Homo sapiens: one gene and its partners. The protein of the gene in region 3 purifies or fractionates together with the protein of the main gene of each other region. This does not show direct contact. Each region holds a gene or a part of one and is shown on either strand. Other genes may lie near its edges.

The links.
Region 1: the proteins of SNAP29 (region 3) and STX18 purify together in Homo sapiens (affinity purification with mass spectrometry; 5 studies listed by BioGRID and IntAct, with this or other methods). This does not show direct contact.
Region 2: the proteins of SNAP29 (region 3) and SGF29 purify together in Homo sapiens (affinity purification with mass spectrometry; 4 studies listed by BioGRID and IntAct, with this or other methods). This does not show direct contact.

Annotation. Positions count from the first base shown.
Region 1 is NC_000004.12:4,420,049-4,427,840, forward strand, and holds part of STX18 (syntaxin-18), read right to left. Parts: intron 5,175-7,792; coding exon 5,116-5,174; intron 3,540-5,115; coding exon 3,470-3,539; intron 897-3,469; coding exon 816-896; intron 82-815; coding exon 1-81. UniProt on the Homo sapiens protein: Syntaxin that may be involved in targeting and fusion of Golgi-derived retrograde transport vesicles with the ER.
Region 2 is NC_000016.10:28,584,128-28,591,919, reverse strand, and holds the end of SGF29 (SAGA-associated factor 29), read right to left. Parts: intron 7,008-7,792; coding exon 6,932-7,007; intron 6,273-6,931; coding exon 6,200-6,272; intron 2,821-6,199; coding exon 2,756-2,820; intron 1,825-2,755; coding exon 1,695-1,824; intron 1,625-1,694; coding exon 1,478-1,624; intron 1,290-1,477; coding exon 1,254-1,289; exon of another isoform or gene 1,249-1,253; intron 1,148-1,248; coding exon 985-1,147; intron 880-984; coding exon of another isoform or gene 868-879; exon of another isoform or gene 331-867; coding exon 214-330; 3' UTR 130-213; downstream 1-129. UniProt on the Homo sapiens protein: Chromatin reader component of some histone acetyltransferase (HAT) SAGA-type complexes like the TFTC-HAT, ATAC or STAGA complexes.
Region 3 is NC_000022.11:20,854,656-20,862,006, reverse strand, and holds the start of SNAP29 (synaptosomal-associated protein 29), read right to left. Parts: upstream 3,001-7,351; 5' UTR 2,897-3,000; coding exon 2,660-2,896; intron 1-2,659. Other genes in the region: PI4KA (phosphatidylinositol 4-kinase alpha), read left to right, coding at 3,282-3,437. UniProt on the Homo sapiens protein: SNAREs, soluble N-ethylmaleimide-sensitive factor-attachment protein receptors, are essential proteins for fusion of cellular membranes.

The DNA.
Region 1 (7,792 bases), on a different chromosome or scaffold from region 3:
GTCGAGGAAGAGCAAGGAGAAGGAGCACATCACGAGGAAGAAGAGGATCCACACGCGGAAGCCAGCGTTGTTTTTAATGGCCTGGGCAGGGACGGGAGCACAGGTGTTTTTATCACACAGGATTTTGGTTTGAGCAGCCCTGAAATGCCCCCCTCTTCCCACGTGCTCTCCTGATCCTGGCTGTAACTATGGGTGTCGTTCCATCTGTGCTTACCTTGAATAGATGGCTTTTGAGATCCACCAGAAGACAAATGGGTTATATTTCCCTCTGTTTGGCCATCATTTGGGTCCTGCACAATTCTCCCTCAACACAACTCTCGGAATCACTCCCTTCTGTCCCAGGGTTAAGGGCCCCGAGCAGAGTGTGACCGCAAGCTTTGTGTTTCCCAGTAACATGATGTCCGTGGTGACCCAACCCTGAGGACTGAGCTTGGGAAACAGTCCCCTCAACAGGATGGCTGTAGTGTCCTCTGTAAGCAGGGGCCAGGCTCTGACCCCTCGGTGGGGGCCAACGAGCTACCCATGTACATCCCTGGACATGAAGAGCTGGCCTGACCCTGCCAGGAGTACCCCCACCCACCCTGGATTGCTCCTTTGGAGGCTGGTGAGCCACTGCCTCTCGAAAGCAGCTGGAGGTGGGCGACAGGTGGTGGGTCTCATGAACACACGCAGCTCCGCGGTCACACAATTTTGTGATCAGCCCCGTGAGCTCTGCCCAGCAAGGCTCCTGGGCAGCTGTGCCGGCGAGACTAACACCCGCTGCTGGGACTCAGTGCTGCGCCACGTCGCACCTGGGGAACCTAAACAGTGCCTACCTCTCTTATGTCTTCGTTGCCTTCCTTGATATTTTCAGTTGCCCCCACAACTAACTGGTGAATGCTGTCAATCTCAGCTTCCTGTGGAAGAAAAGATAAATACAAGTTGAGTATCCTTTATCCAAAAACCTGAAACCCAAAATGCTCCAACGAGCATTTCCTTTGAGTGTCATGTCAGCGCTCAGAAAGTTTCAGATTTTGGAGCACTTAGGACTTCACATTTTGAAGTTTAGGGATGCTTGACATATACAGCCACTTCCTCCTCCCTGAAGCGTATATCATGACAAGAACAGTAGCCGTCACCAAGGGCTAACGGCTTTACTTGCATAGCCACAAATCCTCACAGCACCCCAAGAAGTAGGTATTACCTCTATTTTATGAAACGGAAACTCACGGCTCAGAGAAGTTTACTAACTTGCCCAAAGTCACATCACACAGCAACCAAGTGGCAGGACTGAGACTTTTTTTTTTTTTGAGACAGGGCTTAAACGATCCTCCCACTTCAGCCTCCCAAGTAGCTGGGAGTATAGGCATGTGCCACCACGCCTGGCTAAATTTTTAAAATTTTTTGTAGAGATGGGGGGTCTCCCTATGTTGCCCAGGCTGGTCTTGAACTCTTGAGCTCACACCATGCTCCCGCCTCGGCCTCCCAGAGTGCTGGGATTACAGGCATGAGCCACCGCGCAGGGCTGAGACCCCATCTTGTTGCAGTGCTCCTTCCGCCACACTTACCATCCCTCCTGCGCCACTCGCCGGTGACGGACAAAAACCTAAGAGCTATTGTTTGTGGAGCAGCCACCATATGCCAGGGGCTTCCCTTCTAGTCTCTCATTTCTTTCTGAAGTCCACAGAAGTAAGCTTTAAAATGTATGTGCTTCGAAATACATATGCTAGCTTCAAAAATAGTGCTTTGTGTTTTACTATCATCATATCTCTTAAAAAACAGGCTAAAATTTAAAAATCAAAATAGGATGCAGGATGCTTACAGAAAACGTTTACTCCAAACGAAGCCTTGAAAAGCTTGAGAAGCGTGGGATAACACAGGGGGCGTCTGGCCCCACAGGAGCAGAGACGGTGCTAGACGTCCTTACAAGCAGGAGTGCCTGCTTCTCTCCTCCTTTCGGTGGTGGTGAAGCTGCTTCCTAACAGGGTCAGGGCAGAATGAATGCTAGCGTGGGTTTTTAGAGAAACCTGACTGACACATTGTAGGGAGGAAGGCAGCATGTGGCCTCTGATTCCCAGCAATGAATATTACTGGGATGGCTTTGCCTCATCATCACCCCTTTTTAGAGAGTCTCAAAGTGTGAACTAAGTGACCACTGCCAAGGTTCCAATGAGAGAATCAATATGAACTACAATGCAACACTGATGGAAAAAACAAGAAAGACACATTGTTCCTCAGGACTTAGGAACTCCCAGTGGGCCGGGCGCAGTGGCTCTCGTCTGTAATCCCAGCACTTTGGGAGGCCAAGGCAGGTGGATCACCTGAAGTCAGGAGTTCGGGACCAGCCTGGCCAAGATGGTGAAACCCCGTCTTTACTAAAAATACCAAAATTAGCCAGGCGTGGTGGCATGCCTGTAATCCCAGCTACTCAAGAGGCTGACTGAGGCAGGAGAATCGCTTGAACCTGGGAGGATGAGGTTGCAGTGAGCCAAGATAGCAACATTGCACTCCAGCCTGGGCGACACAGCAAGACTCTGTCTCCAAAAAAAAAAAAAAGAAAAAGAAAAAAAAAGAAAAGAAAAAGAAACTCCCGGTGAGCCAAGGCAAGGCTCTGCCTATGCTCTGCACGCCCCTCCCAGGCCCCCTGGAGCCGCTGGGAGGTTTGAAGCAGGGTAGTGTTATTAAAAAGGGCGACTCCTATGAACCCGAACTTGCAAACCACTGTTAGACTTAATGTACCTCATTTACAATGATTTCACTCTGGCTGTGTGGTTTATGGAAAGTCATTTTGTGAGTGAAGTATCTTAAGTCAAGTAGTCCAGTTTAAAATACTGGAGAAAATTTTGTCTTTCAAACGTTCCCATAGTCTTTGGATGCTAAAAATAAAAGGGCAAATTTATCAGGTCTTGAAAAGTTTTGCCAGTTATTGGCTGGAAGAATTTCAGAAAATTCACTTGAAAAGAACAATCCTATTTCCCACGCAGACACCATCCCTGAGGTGGCATGGACCGCGCGTTGTGAGAGGCCTGGGTCTGAGCTCCTGTAACCTACTGACTGAAAAGCAACTGCCCGTCAGCATCGTGCTGGATGCTTCTGCAGTTATCTCTCAAACAGAGAATAACCCTGCAGGAGTCCCTCCCTCCTATAGATGGGAAACTGTAGCTTGTGGGGGCTACCTAGCTTACCCAGCACATCCAGAACCCTGACTGCCAGGCCTGGACTCTCCTCCCACGTGCCACCGCATGTGCTACCACATGGGGTGGTCAGTGGGTCCCCTGTGGGGAGCTCCTCCTCCATCACACGTGTGCAGAGGCAGCTCTGGGTAGTGAGAGCTTTTCCCTGAGGAGCTCTGCGCACACACACCTGCTAGCAACACATGGCTCTGCTCCTGGCTGTGTAGAGCAGCAGCCTTTGGGAAAAATGTCTCGTGCTCTCAAGTACATTCCCCTTTGAGTGAAAACATACAGCTCCTTTGTTTTTGTTTTTTTACCTGTTGCAAAACCTTTTCCGTGAATATCTCTTGGAGTCTGGAAATCTCAACCACTCTCCCTTCGATTTGCCTTCATAAAAAGAACAGATTACATATTAACTATTAGCACTTGGTAATCTAACAGGACTGTTACACACTTCTAAAGAAATCCTATCTTCTACGTGAAGGTGGGAGAGACAGGGGGCACACTGTGTCGGCTGGGGGAAGAGGAGATGGGAGAGGAAGGCGAACTCTCCTTACTGGGTCACCTTCCCTGTCTTCTGGCATAGCCTAGCACACTGGTCTTTTTGGAAGTCCACTCTACCATGCCAACTGACCCTCAGTCCCAAGAGGTGGGTGTGTGCAGTGCCCTTTGCATTCTGTGTCACTGCTCGGGGAATGGGGAGGGCCTGGTTGTGCCCCAGTTACAGAAAGCAGTCTCCAGTAAGTTCTCTGCCTAGCCTCATCACCATGGTAACACATGGTGGGGATTCAGAAGGTCAGAATATGCTGATGATCCAGCTTTGTTAATGCTCAGCAGGTTAAAGAAAAAAGTGTATTTACCTTCAAACCAACTCCCTGTTCCAAGAAAAAAGCTCCTCTGATTCATTTAGAAAATGCCATGTCTTGGTTTGGCAACGGAGTGTTCTGTCGGATCTGAAACACTTGGGCTAGCCATCTTCCTGGTGTCAGGGGCAGCATGGGCTACCCTGGGGGGCGGGTGGGGGCACATCTATTTAGAAACAGAAGCTGGCCCAAGCTGAAGTCAACTGCTGTTCCAGCACAAAGCAGCGACAGGAAGTGACAGGAGGCAAAAAGTGGTGGGAGCTGAGCTCCTGGCCAGGTGGAAGCAGTGATGAATCCCAACAGTATCACAGTGGCAGGGGGCAGGGGAGGAGATGTGGGAAGAAAAGCCAGTGAGTATCTGGGCATGGGGGAGTAGCGGGGTGGGGGCGGTAGTGGGGCAGACAGTGAAAGCTAGGCTGTCAGAGGAGGACTAGGAGGTCCATCTCTGAGGGCAGAAGGCGAAGAGCCCCTTGGAGGCTGACACCTACACTGAGAAAGTCCTCAGGCTGTGTGAGTGCAGCATCAGGATTGATTTTATTTGGGGGACATGTCCACAATACAACAGGCTCTGCAAAGTCCTGGGCCTTACTTTCAGCATGCTCCAAGCCTTCCCACAGAAACTAGAGGCTAACGGGTGCATGTGTGAGTGACCAAGGCCTTGCCTTCTGCATTCCTGACTCCCTGGTGGGTACAGGAGCAGGCAGACCCCAGTGGAACCATTTGCAGAAGAGGGCTTCCCTTGGTTAGCTGCCCTTCATAAGGGCCCCATTTCATTTCAGAGTCGCTGCGTGGAAACAGCCCGAATGGTGGTGGAAATTATACGCAGGTAATCTGTAGTCACTCCTGTATCTCTCGGGGTGGGAAGCACCTGGGCCCCCCGCAGCAGTGGCAGCAGGCAGGAGGTAACCCACAGGCCCACAAGCTGAGGGAGTTGTGGATTCAGGCCACATGCCCACCCCAGCCCAGTCAAAATGGCTGAGGGGGGCTGCACCAGCCCAAGGGCCCCATGGGGATGCCTGGGCACCAAGGTAAATAAAGTTCCTAGTTCCTGGAAAAGTTGTAAAGCAGGCTATCAGCTCACAGAGGAGCTACAAACATACCTCACTTCATCAAACAAGCTGTTCATTTCACCAATTAGTCGCTGATTTTCCTGTTCAAACTGTGAGGAAACAGACACACTCAGGATGACATCATACTGAACTTAGGCAAGAGTCTAGCAAGAAAGCGGACCTACGCTCCAGGAATCACTGCCGAAGCCCCCATTTCCAGCTGCGGCAACGTGGCAGCCGGTGCTGGACGACCGTTAGCATTAGTGTGAACAACGTCCCTGCTTTCAGGAGAAAGTTTTAAAAAACAGCTGTGCTGCCTGGTAATTGACTTCTCCATCTCAACCACTGCACTCCAGGGGTACAAGCTGACTGCTATGGCTGTAGCTGTATCTACCTACCCGCTCTCCCCTGGGATCCCACGGCCTGCTTCCTGACTCTAGTACCATTATTAAGAAAATTCTTTTGTTGTTGTTTTCTCTCATGAACTATACTGAAGGACTATACATATTTTTTAATATGGAGAAGGATCTGGTGTGGGGAGGGTCTGGAGAGGAAGGGGAGGTGGGCAGCTTGGCCGAGCTGCCTCTGGGCCCCTCTGACTTCAGAGCCTGGCCACTCCACTGCTCAACAGGGACAGAGGCCCAGAGCCAGAGGAGCGTGTTTCCCAGTGCTCAGGCTGGGTGAGGACGGGTGCCCTGACACCAGGGATACATGGGAGCTTCTTGGAGCTGAGTGAGCTTGGCACAGACAGTTGCTCTCCCAGCCATTCTTGCCAGTTTGATATGGGCCAAAGAAAAGGATGGAAGCTCCTGAAACTCAGCACAGAGAATGGACAGGAACAGCTCCTTGCCCTCACTGCAGGCCCCCACAGCCCTGTCCTCGTGTGTCCACTCAACTCCCGCAATGTGCAGGGAGTCAGGGGCGTCCTGCATTTCCTCCCCGATGCATCCCGCAGGCCCCACTTCTCCAGGACACCTACCCTGGCCCCTAAGCTCAAACTTATTTCTCATATTCCTATCCTTGGCCTACCATTTTCTGAAAATATCTTAGGATAGTAGCGCCCAACGGTCCCTTTCTGCCTTGTAATAAACTGTGCCCATCCCAAACTTCCCGTGTCACCCTGAGCTTCCTGAGGGCGGGAACTGGGTGGAACATAACTTTGCAAAGGCATTCCAGTTGTTCTTTCTTTCTTATAGATTAAAGCTGCCATCAAATCCACAAATATTTTCTGAGGCATTCTGTAAGCAGGAGTGGGAGGGATACATACAAGCAAGCCTCTGGAGGCTCCGAATCGATGGAAGATCTGGCTTATCACTTGCTTAGTAAACCAAAAATACAAGGGAAACAATGGTTATGGGAGGCAGCTGACCACCACGGGCTATGCTGGCACTTCATTCAACAGCCTGACCTTGTTGCCATTGTCCTAGGGCGGAAATGAGTTGCAGGGTCTCCCCAGCAGCCTCCTTCCCACCCAGGACCCCTCCCCTCCAAGTACCCCAGCTGTGCTCTATGCAGGCGCTCTTCACACACACGCCCCTTCCTAAGTCCACCAGTTTCGCCCCCGCACATGCACTTGCTGTATTCAGCCCTTCCCCTACCGTCCACATTCCACCCTCACCGTTTCTCACTTGCCTCCAACCTGTTATCCAATCCTTGGTCAAAGTGATCTCAAGTGCTGGTCATGCCAGAATGCCTCATGGTGGCCTTGCCCGCTGACCCTACAGATCAGGTCTAGGGCACACTGTTATCCATGCCCTGGCCACGTGACATCTCCCATCTCAGCTCTGCTCTGACAGGCTAGTTTCCTGCCTGGCTGCAGAACTCCACGTGGTCCCTCAAAACCCCAGGCATCTTCCTAGCGATCTGATACCTCAGGGCAGACTGAATCACCTTCTCTTACTTTCTCACTCTTGTTACCAAGTTCCCCTGTACTTGGCTCTTCAAGGACATTTCTCACACTTGTTCAGGGGGCTTGTCTTCTCTCTGTGGAAGGCAGCTGTCCTCCTTTGGACACTGAGCCCAGCCCAGGGCCTCACACATGACAGAACACCAGTTCTCGGCCCCGGCTACTCAAAACACAAGGAGGCATCTGCTGCACTCCAGACCCACCGGGCCAGAAAACGGGGAAGGGGCAAAGCTCTGGGAAGGGCGGAAGTGCCAGGAAAGCTCCCTGCAGGACCAACTCATCCACAGCAGGGGGCCGTGCTGGCTGCTGACACAGAATTGCTTATGGCCCCTTTAATTAGGCAAGACAAAGGCTATTTAAGAGAGTAAAACTTTCACTTTTGAGTTTGAAAGTATCCGCTCTGTTAACTTCAACAGTTACTTAAGAGGACAGTATTTAAGGAAAACATGTAATTACTAAAACATGCAGGCGCCAATTCACTTTGGCTAATTCAGGTACTACTCAGCTTTCCCTGGGTGGCGGCATTTTCTTGAATTTTTCTAATGACAAAATATGGCCCTGGCCCTGACCTTTTAAATCCACAGTCCCTTTTATGCTTTGAAACTGTTCCTAAACAAAATTAACTAGTGGTTTGGGGTGATTCATTCCTGGACTGTTCCTTGGGAACAAAGCTTTTCTTGTTTCCTCCCCAATTTGAGGGCCTGTGGTATAAGGCACTTAGGTGCGGCACCTCCTCTTAGGCCTCTTCGTAATTGTTAACTTCTGATAGCTCCATGTCCGCCCTCCACTGCACTCAGGAGTGGGATCAGATGCTGGCTCTAA
Region 2 (7,792 bases), on a different chromosome or scaffold from region 3:
AGAGAAACCCTGAGCTGAAAGAGTGATCGCCCACTGGGGCCAAATACGGCCACCTCCCCGCTCCAGCTCCTCAACTTGCCCTGTTTGGAGAGGGGAGAGGGTCTGGAGAAGTAAAACCCAGGAGACGAGTAGAGGGGGAATGTGTTTAATCCCAGCACGTCCTCTGCTGTCCTGCCCTGTGTCGTTGGGGGATGGCGAGTCTGCCAGGCGGCATCACTTTTTCTTGGGTTCCTTACAAGCCACCACGTATCTCTGAGCCACATTGAGGGGAGGGGAATAGCCATCTGCATAGGAGGTGTCTTCAAACAGGACCGAGTAGTCATCCTGGGGCTGTGGGGCAGGCAGACAGGAGGGGCTGCTCAGAGACCCCCAGGCCAGGACAGGCACCCCCTTCCCCCAGCCTAGACCACAGGAGGCTCTGGGCCGTGGACTCTCAGCCACTCCTAACATCCTTCACTCTGGGGTCAAGAAGTCTTGGCCCAGTCCCTGCTGCTACAGAGCTCTTTTCTCAGTGGCTGGAGACCCAAGGCAGGGAATAGGCAGGGAGGAGTAGGGGTGCTGACTCCCTTCCTAGTGGGGTCATAGCTGGAGGGTCTGCTGCCTTTCAAGGACTCTTTGTTGAGAGGACTGAGGGCAACCCAGAGGGTGGCAGGCAGGGATCCTGGCCTCAGGTGGCTTGTGTCCCATGTCACCAAGAGCACAAGGCGGTAGGAGCCCAGGGCTCAGGGCAGGAGCTTCCCATCTCGGAGCTGGTTCTCCTGGGGCTGGAAGCCACTGACTCGGGGCTTGCCAAGGCTGCCAGGGCTGGCAAAGGGATGGTGGCCTTTGGGGCTGGAGTGGAAGAGGGAGGGCAGCTGGTGGGTCCTGTCAGCTTGGAGCCTGTGAGATGAGGACAAAGGGAAGGAGTGGGGAGAGGACCCCTCGTCTGTCTGATCAGCCTGTTCCTGACATCACCCATGGCCTCTCCCCTGGAGGCTGCTTTACCCGCTGTGGGGGCGCATGGATCAGGGCGCGGTAGAAGCAGGTAGTCTGGGGATACAGGGCCAGCACGAGCTGCTCCTTCTGGAACAAGGCCTCAGGGTCCGTCTCCGGGTTGGCCTTCCACTGGGGCAGCGGGATGACACGGCGCCGGCTCAGGGTGTGTCTCCTGGGGGAAGAGGGGCTTATATCAACCTGTGGCCGGGTGGGGATGCTCCTTCTCAGCTGTTAGGCTGCCCCCAGGCTCCATGCCCTGCCCTGGCCTGGACACTCACTCTTTGCCTTCTTCATCGATGTCATCTACCTCATACCTGCAGACAAAAGGAGGAAAAGGCTGGATGCAGCCAGGGGCGCAGTACCTGTTGGGGAGTGAGGATGGGGGAGGACCTGGTGCTCCCTGCACAACCAGCCTCTGGGGAGCACCCTCTGCAGAGCTTTTCTCCCGTAGCCCAGGCAAGTTCGGTGACCAGAGAGCAGCCCCAGGGTTGGTGTCACTCACTTGTTGGTGGCATGGCTGTAACTGACCACCTCGGCCAGGATCCACTGCTCGTCCCCATCCACGGCCTTCACCCGGGCAGCCACCTTGTCTCCAGGTCTGGCCACGTAGTCTCCTGAGGCAGGGATGGCCCCACAGAGGGGTGGGGGCCTGTGAGTGGAACAAAGGGTCAGTCCCAGCCCCTGGGCACCAGCCCCTCCCTCGCAGCTGCTGCCCTCACTTGTCACCAGGCTTCCCGATCCACAGGGGCAGGGTCATGGCCGACTGCTGCAGCAGGGTCATCAGCACCCCTCTGCGCATGGTCTTCCGGGGTGGCTCCGAGTCATTGTAGAGACCGGCAATCTTGGCCGCTGTGGGAAGGAAGGGAGGCCTGAGGCCCCAGGGATAGGTGCCGGCCTTGACCCCCGAGCATGCTGCACTGAGCTGTTGAAGGAGCACCTGGGAGCCCCCAGTTCCCGAGTGAGCCCGAGGGCCCAGCAGGACTGTGACCCCATCGGCCATGTGTCAGCACCTATAGGGGCTGCTGGGTTTAACTACAGTTGGGTGAGATGGCAGCACAGCGGGGATCCAGGGGGAGGAACCAGAAGAAAGAAAGCGGGTTCCAAGGTGCTGTTCAGGCTGTGTTTGCTGATCTGAATGCTGGTTACAGAAGTGTGTTCAGTTAGTGACTATTTCATTGAACTCTGCACTTATGTGTACTTTTCTTCTATTAATATACATTGTAATTCAACAGAAAGTTAAAAAAACCAAAAAAAAAATTAAATGTGCACCTTCAACCTCCTCAGGCACAGCTGGACACCCCACTTGACTTCACACAGAACCAGCATGGCTGTGTGGGGACACTGACATGCCAAGATTCTGCCCACCATGGGATTGTTGGGAGGGCAGACAGGTAGGAGAGCCTAATGCAGGCTGAGGGGGTCTGGAAGGCTGGCTTTACGACACACAGCGTGTGGCTCTGCAGAAACCAGCCAGGGCAACAGATGGGCATGGGCCATGGCAGAGGAGGGGGCGACTGGCCCAGGCCCCAGAAGGGGCAGGAGATGAGGGGCCAGGGCGGGATGATCTCTGGCTGCTGAGGGAGAACTGGGAAACCCCTGCCTCTGGGCACTGGGAATGACCTCCTGTCCCTTCTCAGTGGTAGAGCCAGTCTGCCAGAGCCTCCATGGGAGGATGCCAGCAGGTGGTGGCCACAGGCCCCCACAGGAGGGTGACTGCTGCCCGCAGGGCCTCTCCTCTTGTCCTAGCAAAGGACCTCCCAGCATGTTCTCTCCCACTCACCAATCCGCCTCTCTTCCAACAGAGACTTGATTTCCGCGATCTTGTCCAGAGCTTTCCGAAGGATGCTGAGGGCGGGGAGAAGGGAGAAAGAGGGTTTGGTTAACGTACATAGCATAGACTTCTCTTCCATTTTTTCTGTTTTGGGTCAAGCTACATTGCCCAGGCTGGTCCCGGACTCCAGAGGTTCTCACAGTAGCCTCCTGCGCAGGTGGAATGACAGGTGTGTGCAGGTTCCTGTTCTGGTCAAGGTGGGCTGGGTTATTCAGACCAACCTCATGGTGAAACTAGAAATCTGCCCGGGTGTGGTGGTTCACGCCTGTAATCCCAGCACTTTGGGAGGCCGAGGAGTGTGGATCACCTGAGGTCAGGAGTTCAAGACCAGCCTGACCAATATGGTGAAACCCCGTCTGTATTAAAAATACAAAACTTAGCCAGGTGTGGTGGCGAGCGTCTTTAACTGTAATCCCACCTACTTGGGAGGCTGAGGCAAGAGAATCGCTTGAACCTGGGAGGCAGAGGTTGCAGTGAACCGAGATCGCGTCATTGCACTCCAACCTGGGCAAAAAGAACGAAACTCCATTTCAAAAAAAAAAAGAAAACTGGAAATCTTCAGTATGTGTCTTTTAGTCTTAAGAACATAAAAAACAAGGTGGTAGAAAGCAGCATGCCAAAAACTAAGAGAACACAGGATCCCAGAGAGGAAAGGACACAGGCAAACTGCCTTCGGCAAACCCTGCAGAAAGGCTGCAGGAACCTCCTGAAATGAGGAGAGGGGGCCTCAGGTCTGCCCGAGGGTCACACAAAAGGAGGGGAGACTCTGGGGAGAGGTGCTGGCCCAGAGCAGAACTGGGTGGAAGGACCTCATCCTTTCTGAAAGGCTGAACCCAAAGACAGACCCCTGCATGGCCTTGAAGCCCCAGGAAGCCTCTGTGAAGTTAGTTTATGGGGATTCCAGGGTGGCAGGAACCCAAAGAACCCAGCAGAAGCAAACACAGAACTTGGCTGGAGTGAGGCTCCTTCATCCTAAAGCTCAGGGAATCTTCCCAAAGAGTATTTCCACAGCAGGGATGGGTGTGGTGGCTCACGCCTGTAATCTCAGCACTTTAGGAGGCTGAGGCAGGAGGATCACTTGAGGTCAGGAGATCGACACCAGCCTGGCCAACATAGAGAAACTCCTTCTCTACTAAAAATACAAAAATTAGCCCGGCGTGGTGGCGGGCGTCTATAATCCCAGCTACTTGGGAGGCTGAGGCAAGAGAATCGCTTGAACCTTGGGGGCAGAGCTTGCAGTGAGCCGAGATTGTGTCACTGCACTCCAGCCTGGGTGACAGAGCGAAACTCCATTTCAAAAAAAATACGTATTTCCACAGTAGTCAGCAGCACAAACTCCACTTTGGGTCATTTTATTTTCCTCTGATACCATGGCAAACCCCAGTCCATTCCTCTGGCAAGCCTTTCTGAAATGACCCGGAGTTCTAAAGACCTTTGTGCGGCAGGAAGGAGATGCACAGGAACTGGGTGTGATGCAGCATCTCGGGAGGTGTCCGGGGGTGCCCCAGGGCATGTGACTCATGGACCTCACCAGGCCAGGGCCAGAAGATGGAGGTAGGCCAAGGGCAGCCAAACCAACGCAGGGACAAGGAACAGCTTGCCTGCTGCGTACAATGCAGGGATGGCCCAGCCAGTGCCACCTCAGGCTGTGAGCACCGGGACCCCAGAAAGCAGAGAAGGAGAAAGAGCCACGGGGCCAAAGGGAACTCTGAGAGTCTCATCACTGTTGCCAGGCCTGTGTGGAGGATACAGTTTTATACAGCCTGTCCTAAACTGTCTTCTGTGACATGTTACTGAAGTGGCTTTCAAACCTTGGTGGGCATCAGAATCTCCTGGGGGAAGTTTAAAAAATCTCAATTGTTTCACGCACAAATCATAAATGGATGCTAAAACTAGTGTGTTTGATATGAACAGGATAGTTACAGTCTCAAAAGTATCTCCCAAGACACTTATTAATTATGCAATGGAGGCCAGGTGCAGAGGCTCACACCTGTAATCCCAGCACTTTGGGAGGCCAAGGTGGGTGGATCGCTTGAGCTGAGGAGTTCAAGACCAGCCTGGGCAACATGGCAAAACCCCTCTCTACAAAAAATACAAAAATTAGGTGGAGTGGTGGCAGGTGCCTATTGTCCCAGCTACTCAGGAGGCTGAGGCAGGAGGATCACTTGAGGCCAGGAGTTTGAGGCTGAAGTGAGCCATGATTACGCCACTCCACTCCAGCCTGGATGACAGACTGAGACCCTGTCTTAATCGATCAATCACACAATGGAAAATAGCAGTAATCTGATACAAGAGAAACGTGGAAAATACCACTTTAACCAATGGCACAGACAGCATCCTGTGCCGTCTAATATGACCCACCAGAGACACCTCTTCTGTGCCAAAAGTGTAAAGCATGAATCCTACTAGTGAGGAAATGTCAGATAGTTAATACCAATGTTGGAGCTCCACCCCAAATAAACAGAGCCTCTGGGCACAGTCAGACTTCAGAACCAGTGTGTTCTCAAAGTAGAGGAATGTAATGTTCAAGTTCCTGAATCTCCTGCAGAGATTCAAGGAAACAGTGTTTCCAGATCATTTTTTTATTTTAGTTTTTTTTTTTTTTTTGAGGCAGAGCCTTGCTCTGTTGCCCAGGCTGGAGTGCAGTGGCACGATCTTAGCTCACTGCAACCTCCGCCTCCTGCCTCAGCCTCCCAAGTAGCGTGCGCCACCACACCTGGCTAATTTTTGTATTTTTAGTAGATATAGGGTTTCGCTATGCTAGCCAGGCTGGTCTCAAACCCCCAACCTCAGGTGATCCACCCACCTTGCGATTGCAGGCATGAGCCACTGTGCCTGCCCGGCCTTAAGATTATTTTAAAAGCAGGAGTTTTCTGGAAGTGAAACTTCTCCATCTCAGAACCATAAAACCTTCAGGTCATCTGAGTATGACTTCCCAGCCAAGCTTACAGACACATGCCACCACGCTCAGCTAATTAAAAACTTTTTGTAGAGACAAAGTCTCACTTTGTTGCCCAGGCTGGTCTCAAACACCTGCGTTCAAGTGATCCTCTAACCTCGGCCTCCCAATCACCTCTGTAATGTTGTGATTACAGATCTGAGCTACCCAGCCCCTGATATCCCTATTTTAATGACTCTGCCAAGGTCATAGAGCCAGTAAACGGCAGTGTTGACTCACGCCTTGCCACCTTCTGTAAAGGCATTAGCAGCAGAGGTAACTGGAAGAGTGGGCCTGGCAGTGGGCCAGGGAATGCGGGACCCAAGCGAGAGGCTGGGAGTAGCAATCAGCTTATCCATGGGAGGAAGGCAGGCTGGGGACTTGGTCCAAATGGACCTGCAGCCCAGCCCCCAGGAAAGGAGGGAGCGGCGATGAAGTGGGTGCACGGTACTCACTTGCACTCAGCCTCTGCATCGGCCTTGGCGGTTGTGTAGAGGCCACGCAGCTTTGTCCGGTAATAGGGAGAAACTGCAGAGGAAACACAGGGATAAGGAGGCAGGGCCAGGGCAGGCACAGTAGCATGGCACTGCTTCCATGCACCGGAATCACACTCGTGGAGGCACAGAGAGGCCGTAGCTGCAGTCAGAGCTCTGCTGGCTCAGGAGTGCTCCTGAGGCGGATGCCCCCAGGCTCCATGAGTCCGCATTTCCATATGGTACAAATGCCATCCCTACATCTGCGAGAGTACTGTCTTACCTTTTCTCCATCATGACACTCACAGAAAATATTTGTCAGGACCCAGGAAAACACAATTCTCAGAGTTACCCAGAGTAAGAAAGCCCCAGCCCCAGGATCTCACCACCTGAGGGCCTCAGGGCAGATGCAGGGGCCGCCTGGGAAGGAAGCTCCTTTCTAGAAAACACCAGCTAACTGGGGCGCTTGTGTGCTCTAAGGGCAAGCTTCCCTAGATACAGCCTCATTTCACTGCCTTTCGAATCCTCAGAGTAGAGGGATTTTAGTTCTTCAGGTCACCCAGATTAACGGAAAGCTGTCCCTCCTGCTGCATTTTGGAATATGCAGATACATGCAAATCTATTTTGAATACAATGACCACCTCGGTCACAGTCTTGGCCATACTCACCCTAGCCCCATCTCATCCCCTTTCTCTCCTGAGCCCAGCTACTCACTCTTGTTCTCTGTCTGCATCCGCTCATGGGTCTTCTGGATGTTCACTAAGTTGTGTTCGCTCCGCGAACGCTCTTCCTGTAAGGAAAAGAGCAGCAGGACATGACGGTGGCCCTTTGTGCTGCTGTGGTACCCTGCCAGCCAGGCCAGAGTCCCCATCCCCAAAATACGGCCCTCATTTTCTTTTTTTTTTTTTTTTTTTGAGATGGAGTCTCACTCTGTCGCCCAGGCTGGAGTGTAGTGGCACGATCTCGGCTCACTGCAAGCTCCGCCTCCCGGGTTCACGCCTTTCTCCTGCCTCAGCCTCCCGAGTAGCTGGGACTACAGGCGCCCGCCACCACGCCTGGTTAATTTTTTGTAGTTTTAGAAGAGACGGAGTTTCACCGTCTTAGCCAGGATGGTCTCGATCTCCTGACCTCGTGATCCGCCTGCCTCGGCCTCCCAAAGTGCTGGGATTACAGGCGTAAGCCAATGCGCCCGGCCTAATTTTTTGTATTTTTAGTAGAGACAGGGTTTCGCCATCTTGGCCAGGCTGGTCTTGAACTCCTGACCTCGTGATCCACCTGCCTCGGTTTCCCAAAGTGCTGGAATTACAGGCAAGGGCGCCCGGCTATGGCCCTCATTTTCTAAATCCAAATTCAGGAGTTCAAGATGATTTTCTCCTTTGACTAATGCAAAAGCATTATAAAAGGCCTTAAAGGGCCTGGTGCAGTGGCTTAAGCCTGTAATCCCAGCACTTTGGAAGGCCAAAGTGGGCAGATCACTTGAGATCAGGAGTTCAAGACCAGCCTGGCCAACATGATGAAACCCCACCTCTACTAAAAATACAAAAATTAGCCGGGCATTGTAGCATGTGCGTATAG
Region 3 (7,351 bases):
CCTAAGGTCAGGCGTTTGAGACCAGCCTGCCCAACATGGCGAAACCTGTCTCTACTAAAAATACAAAAATCAGAGGCCAGGTGTGGTCGCTCACGCCTGTAATCCCAACACTTTGGGAGGCCAAGGCAGGTGGATCATGAGGTCAGGAGTTCAAGACCAGCCGGACCAACACAGTGAAACCCCGTCTCTACTAAAAATACAAAAATTAGCTGGGCATGGCGGCGGGTGCCTGTAAGCCCAGCTACTCAGGAGGTTGAGGCAGGAGAATCGCTTGACCTGGGAGGCAGAGGTAGCAGTGAGCTGAGATCGCGCCACTGAACTCTAGCCTGGGAGACAGAGCAAGACTCCGTCTCAAAAACAAAAAACACCAAAAAAACAAAAACAAAAACAAAAACAAAAAAATTAGCCAGGTGTTGTAGCAGGTGCCTCTAATCCCAGCTACTTGGGAGGTTGAGGCAGGAGAATCATTTGAACTGGGGAGGTGGAGGTTGCAGTGAGCCGAGATCACACCATCGCACTCCAGCCTGGGTGACAGAGTAAGACTTTGTCTCAAACAAAACAAAAATAAAAAACCAACAGTTAAACACAGGGAGGTGGGCTAGGTGCAGTGGCTCACGCCTATAATCCCAGGACTTTGGGAGGCCGAGGTGGTGGATCACGAGGTCAAGAGATCGAGACCATCCTGGCCAACATGGCAAAACCCCAACTCTATTAATACCAAAATTAGCTGGGTGTGGTAGTGCACGCCTTAGTCCCAGCTACTCAGGAGGCTGAGGCAGGAGAATCACTTGAACCCAGGAGGCGGAGGCTGTAGTGAGCCAAGTTGGTGCCACTGCACTCCAGTCTGGTGACAGAGCGAGAATCTGTCTCAAAAAAAAAAAAAAAAAACCACAGGGAGGTGGATCAATGAGGGATACATGAACAGAGAGAGGTGGGGAAGGGAATTAACCCAAGAAAACAGCAAGGGGAAATGATAGCGTGTTGCTCTGTCGCCCAAGCTGGAGTGCAGTGGTATGAACATGGCTCACTGCAACCTTGACATCCTGGGCTCAAGCGGTCCTCCTGCCTCAGCCTCCTCAGTAGCTGCACTCACATGTGTGTGCCACCATGCCTGGCTAATTTTTCAAATTTTGTAGAGACGCAGTTACCCCTGCTGGTCTCAAACTCCTGGGCTAAAATGATCTGCCTACCTCAGCCTTACAAATTGTTGGGATTACAGAAGTACAACCGCGCCTGGCTTATACATTTTTTTAAACCTTTTTTTTTCTCTGTCCAAACAAAACTGTTTCATTAGCAGGCTGAAGAGAGACTGTGGTGTACAATAAAGAATCATTCTCGACCGGTATGGTGGCTCACGCCTGTAATCCCAGCCCTTTGGGAGGCCAAAGCGGGCGGACTGCCTGAGGTCAGGAGTTCCAGACCAGCCTGGCCAACGGGGCAAAACCCTGTCTCCACTACAAATACAAAAAAAATTAGCCGGGTGTGGCGGCGCACCTGTAGTCCCAGCTACTCGGGAGGCTGAGGCAGGAGAATCGTCTGAATCCCGGAGGCGGAAGTTGCAGTGAGCCCAGATCATGCCACTGTACCCAAGCAAGGGCGACAGAGCGAGATTCCATCTCAAAAAAAAAAAAAAAAGAAAAAGAAAAAGACCCTCCAGGATCTCGGTCTGTTGCCCATGCTGGAGTGCAGCAGCACGATCTCAGCTAACTGCAACCTCTGCCTCCCGGGTACAAGCGATTCTCCTACCTCAGCCTCCTGAGTAGCTGCGACTACAGGCGCACCGCCACACCCGGCTAGTTTTTTTTTTTTTTTAATTTTAGTGGAGACAGGGTTTCACCATGTTGCCCAGGCGGGTCTCGAACTCCTGAGCTCAGGCGATCCGACGCCTAGGCCTCCCAAAGTGCTGGGATTACAGGCGTGAGTCACTGCGCTCGGCCAGAATAATTGTTATTGAAGGTACTACTCTCTGAAATCTAAGGATGGGAAGAACTGATGAAGATGAGTTGGAGCAACAAACTCTTAACCCGCACACTATTTGTCTAGGATTTGGGAAGTAAAGGTAAGACCCTGGACTCAATCAAACCCAGGCTTTGGTCAACTAGGCAGCTGTCTGGGCTGAAGGGACTTCAATACCTCTATTGGTTGGTTAGGTGGAGATGTCAATGATGCGGGAAGAACTCGTGGACCACCTGCCCTGATGCTTCAGGGTATCACCTGACACTCGCAGGCACATAGTCCTCTCTTTCTGGCTCACTCCGGAAGGAATGGCCAAAACCCTGTGCCAGATTTTGCACAGGAAATAATGTCGAAGAAACGGACTCTCCATTTCCCAAACCTAGGACCTGCTGTTCAGAATTTTTACTCACCTGGACAGAAAATAATCTGGCGTTTCCCCGTGAGCTAGGCGTAAGAAAAAAAAAATCAACGAAGCAGACTAATAGCTAAGGAAGATTTCTGGGGTAAACTGCCCTCTTCAAGTACTCCAGATGCACATACCTTTACATAGTTAACAGATTGTTACCACCATCGAGTCACTAAGGTGCAAGAATCTATGCTAGGCAACTTGAGAATTCTCAAAAGATTGTGAGCAAAACATTTCTCGTCTCCGTTTGACAGCACAGAGACCGGCGAGTCCACACCAGCCCTGCCCCAGGCTCACCTCGGAAGAGGCGACCCCAACCTTCTCGGACTCGTACATGAGGGCCAGGGACCTGCTGGTGCTGGCGGCCGTGGCCTCAGCCCTGCGGAGGACCTCCTGCCGCAAGTACTGCTGCCTGTCCGCGGGCGCGTCGGGCCCGTCGGGGAGGTCTCGGGCGTCCCTCCAAGGGGCCGGCCGGGCGCCTTCGTCCTCCCCGTCGTCGTCGAACGGATTGTAGCTTTTAGGGTAAGCTGACATGGTGCCGGCGCGGCTCTCGGTCTGGGAAACAGAAGGAGGAGCCCCACTGCCGCCGCCGTCCAGGGCCTCGCCCCGCCCGCCGACCCCGCGGTCGTCGCGCGAACTCCTTCCGCGCGTCGCGCGCAGGTGGCCCCGCCCTCGGAGCCGACCATCGCGCAGGTCGGCTGGGGGGGGCCCACATCCGGCGCGCGCAACCGCAGCCTACTGTCCATCCCCTCTCTCCCCTGCAGCGGTGGGCCCGCCCCGCAGCCACGCCCTATCTAGTGTCAGCAACTGAGAGGTCACGTGGCGGGAAAGCCGGATGCACCTACGCCTGCGCCCTGAGGTCGGGCGCTCGCGGGCCAGGAGCGGGGAGCCGGCGGGCAGCGCCGCGGCTCGTGAGGTGATGGCGGCGGCCCCGGCCCGGGGAGGCGGAGGCGGAGGCGGAGGCGGCGGCGGCTGCTCCGGCTCCGGCTCCAGCGCCTCGCGGGGCTTCTATTTCAACACGGTCCTGTCACTGGCCCGCTCCCTGGCGGTGCAGAGACCAGCATCCTTGGAGAAGGTAACGTCGGCGGGCTGGGCCGCGGGCTGACAGGAGGAGGGGCTGGGGTGACGAAGCGTGGAGGCGGGACGAGGGTCTGTGGGAGGCCGAGGCTGGGCTCGCCGGCAGCCTGTGCGGGAGGGGGCGCCTGAGCGGAGGGATCTAGCGGGGGAAGGAGGCCCTAGTGGGAGGGGCTGGTGAAGAGAGAGGGACCGTGGGGGAAGGGTCGGCGGGGCCTGCAGGGCCGCTGCAGGTGGGTGGTTGTGGGATGGGGGTGGGGGATGTGAGCTGCTGGCCCAGGGAGCATCTTGTGACATCGCGGAGGTGGAGGCTGGATCGTGGGCGGCTGTGCGGAGCAGTGGGATGAGCCGAGGACCAGGGGTCAAGACCTGGGGTTCTGCTTCCGATTTCACCTGCTTTTTATTCCGCGACCTTGGGAAGATGGCTTTCTTGTAAAATGGGGATGCTTTTATCTGCTTTGCCGGCTTCACCGGACTGTGGTGACCAGGAGACGAAACACTGTCTTGAAAGTGCTTTGTGACTGTAAACCAACTGCGCAGTGTTATTCTACGAGGCTGGGGGCGTTAGGTTGGGTAAAAGATTGTGCGTTTGCAGAAGGGACAGTGGCAGGGAAAGGAGAGTGAACTGTCAGTGGGCAGAGAAGTGAACTTGGAATTGCTTCAGAAGAGAAAGGTGAAGTCATGCCAGAGCAATCCTCATCTTGGGAGAAAGGTGAAAGGCAACTCAGTGGTGTGCCTTGAGATCTGGAAAGAGACAGATTTTAGAGTGGGACCTGAATTTGTTCCCTGCACTGGCACTTACTTACCATGTCCTCTTGGGTAAATTTAACTCTTAGAGCCTCTGTATCCTTATCTGTAAAATGAGGTTGTTCTTGAGAATTAAATGAGTTCTAGCATAAAGCATCTTGCACAGGTCAAGGCACAGAGTGGGTGAGCAGTAAATGTCAACTTTCTTTGCCCACCCGTGTGCGATGAGACTCAGCACAGTGTTTAGCTCTGAAAGGATGGAATTATTTTCCCACTCAACTTTTTGGCACATGGAGAGAGGATGTTTTCCGACAAGATAAGACAGTGGTGACCGGAGACCAGCCTGCTGCAGTTGGGAGTGGTTTTGTGGCTGTCTGCTGATGGATGAAGCTGAAAGGCTGTTTTAGGCACTTTTGGCAGAGTGACCTGGTCCTTGGCCTTGTCGGTTCTCATATTTGATTTTATCATGCACCTTCGGGGTGAGAAGGTCCCGGCAGATTGGTGCTAACCTGACTTCTAGCTAAAGAGGGAGTACAATGCAATGGAAAGGACATGAGTTTGGAAAATGGAACCTCTGAATTTAAATCCTGTATCACTTGCTTTCACTAGTGTGACTCTAGACAGGTCAGTTCCCTTCTCTGATACTTTGCTATCTTCTGTCAAATACAAGGTAGTACTTCATAGGAGTATTGTGAAGAGCAACAAAAAGGCACGTGGGTACCTAATGTATGAGCACTGTTATCATTAGATAGTCTGACTAATGGAGTGTAGTGCTGTTTTATTGAATCAAACTCATGCTAGCTAGTCAGCACATTCGCTTCTTAGCAGGAGAGCCAACAAATATATCTTATGACTGATTGCTGGATTCTGGGAGGAGAGAGAAGAGAATGCAGTGAATTGGATGATCTTTAAGAAGCTGGTCCTGCAGCTCCAGCAGTGGTAGCACCCTTTCCACTCAGTAACTCAGAAAAGGGCACCTTGAGCTCAATTTGCTTCTTCAGCCATGTTCACTAGTCACGAGAACATTCTGTAATTGCAACATTCTTAGCTTTGTAGTAATAACTGCTTCAGTTGTCAAGATTATATTTTATGATGGGGCACGGTGGCTCATGCCTGTAATCCCAGCACTTTGGGAGGCTGAGACAGGCAGATCACTTGAGGTCGGAGTTTGAGACCAGCCTGGCCAACATGGTGAAACCCTGTCTCTGCTAAAAACCCAACATTAGCCAGGTGTGGTGGCACGTGCCTCTAATCCCAGCTACTTGGGAGGCTGAGGCAGGAGAATCGCTTGAACCTGAGAGGCAGAGGTTGCAGTGAGCCAAGATTGCGCCATTGCACTTCAGCCTGGGTGACAAGAGCAAAACTGTCTCAAAAAAAAAAAAAAAAGAAAAAGATTATATTTTACAAGGAACACAGCCATAGCCACAGGTTGGCAGCTCCCTAATGCCACTTACTTTAGGAAGTACTTCAGTCTCATTGGCAACATTTACCAATCACTTTTTTGGTTTTTTTGAGAGGGAGTCTCGCTCTGTTGCCCAGGCTGGAGTGCAGTGGTGAGATCTCGGCTCACTGCAACCTCTGCCTCTCAGTTTCAAGCTATTTTTCCACTGTAGCCTCCTGAGTAGCTGGGACTACAGGCGTGTGCCACCACCCCGGGCAAATTTTTTAGTATTTAGTAGAGACGGGGTTTAGTATTTAGTATTTAGTGGAGACGGGGTTTCACCCTATTGGCCAGGCTGGTCTTGAACTCCTGACTTCAAGTAATCCACCCGCCTTGGTCTCCCAAAGTGCCGGGATTACAGGCATGAGCCACTGTGCCTAGCTATTACTAATCACTTCTGTGAAGAAGAGTGAATAGAGCAGCACTGGGGCTGCTGTTTTTACAAGAGCCTGCTTACAAAGTTGGCCTTTGGCTGGCATCTGGGAAATAAGCACTTGAATGCTTTCCTCAATCCTGTAACTATTAGTAATAAAGATGGTTCACTATGCCTAGATCCTTTTTACAAACTATGATTTATGTTGAATACCTGCTTTCCTTCTGGGAATCTGATGGCTAGGCTGGTGGTGCATAAATTAAAAACTTAGGGTGCTGATTCTCTAATGGACTTTCCTGGGCACAAACTGCACACATGTATTGAATATTTTGCTGCTGTAGCAAGGAGCAAGCTTGATGTATATCCTCACAGGAGGGAGAGAACATAAGGAAGCCTGTGCATGGGTTTCTACAGGCAGCCCTGACATGCTTTTAGTGACACTTGAGGTCCTTTCCTATTGCTGATATCCATTCACTGTAAAAAATTTAGCCATGAGTACAACTATATACATGTGGGCAGTCTGGGGACCCCTGAAGCACCTTATTTCATAGAGGAGGCTTCTGTAAGTGGCTGACCCCATTAAATATATGTGAATTCCTCTCATCCTTATCTAAGATCTTGCGACTTGATTATGCTAGGGATCATTGTTAATATGTAGTCCCTGGCACATGTATACATATGTAACAAACCTGCATGTTGTGCACATGTACCCTTGAACTTAAAGTATAATAAAAATATATATATATAAAATATGTAGTCCTATAATATGTGTTTTACTACATTCCTCCTTTTGAAGCAATTGACAAAAAGCCCTTAGCATTCCCAAGGAAAAGTTTCTTGTTCTTTTTTTTTTTTTTTTGAGACAGTTTCACTCTTGTTGCCCAGGCTGGAGTGCAGTGGCATGATCTCGGTTCACTGCAACCTCCACCTCCCGGGTTCAAGCGATTCTCCTGCCTCAGTCTCCTGAGTAGCTGGGACTACAGGCACCTGCCACCACACCCAGCTAATTTTTGTATTTTTAGTAGAGATGGGGTTTCGCCGTGTTGGCCAGGCTGGTCTCAAACTCCTGACCTCAGGTGATCCGCCCACCTCGGCCTCCCAAAGTGCCAGGATTGCAGGCGTGAGCCACCACGCCCGGCCAAGTTTCTTGTTCTTAAGAGTAAAGGAATTTTAGAGTACGCACCTGAGATAATAAAGATGGAGACTTATAGGGGGAGATGAGTATTTAAAACCCAATCCCTCCCCTTCTCTCTTCCCTCTTCCCCTTCTCTTTGCTTCTATTTTTTTCTCTTCTTTCTTCCTGAGAGATTGGAGGACTGCGTGGGGCTTGATCTAGATAGGGTTGACCTGGCGA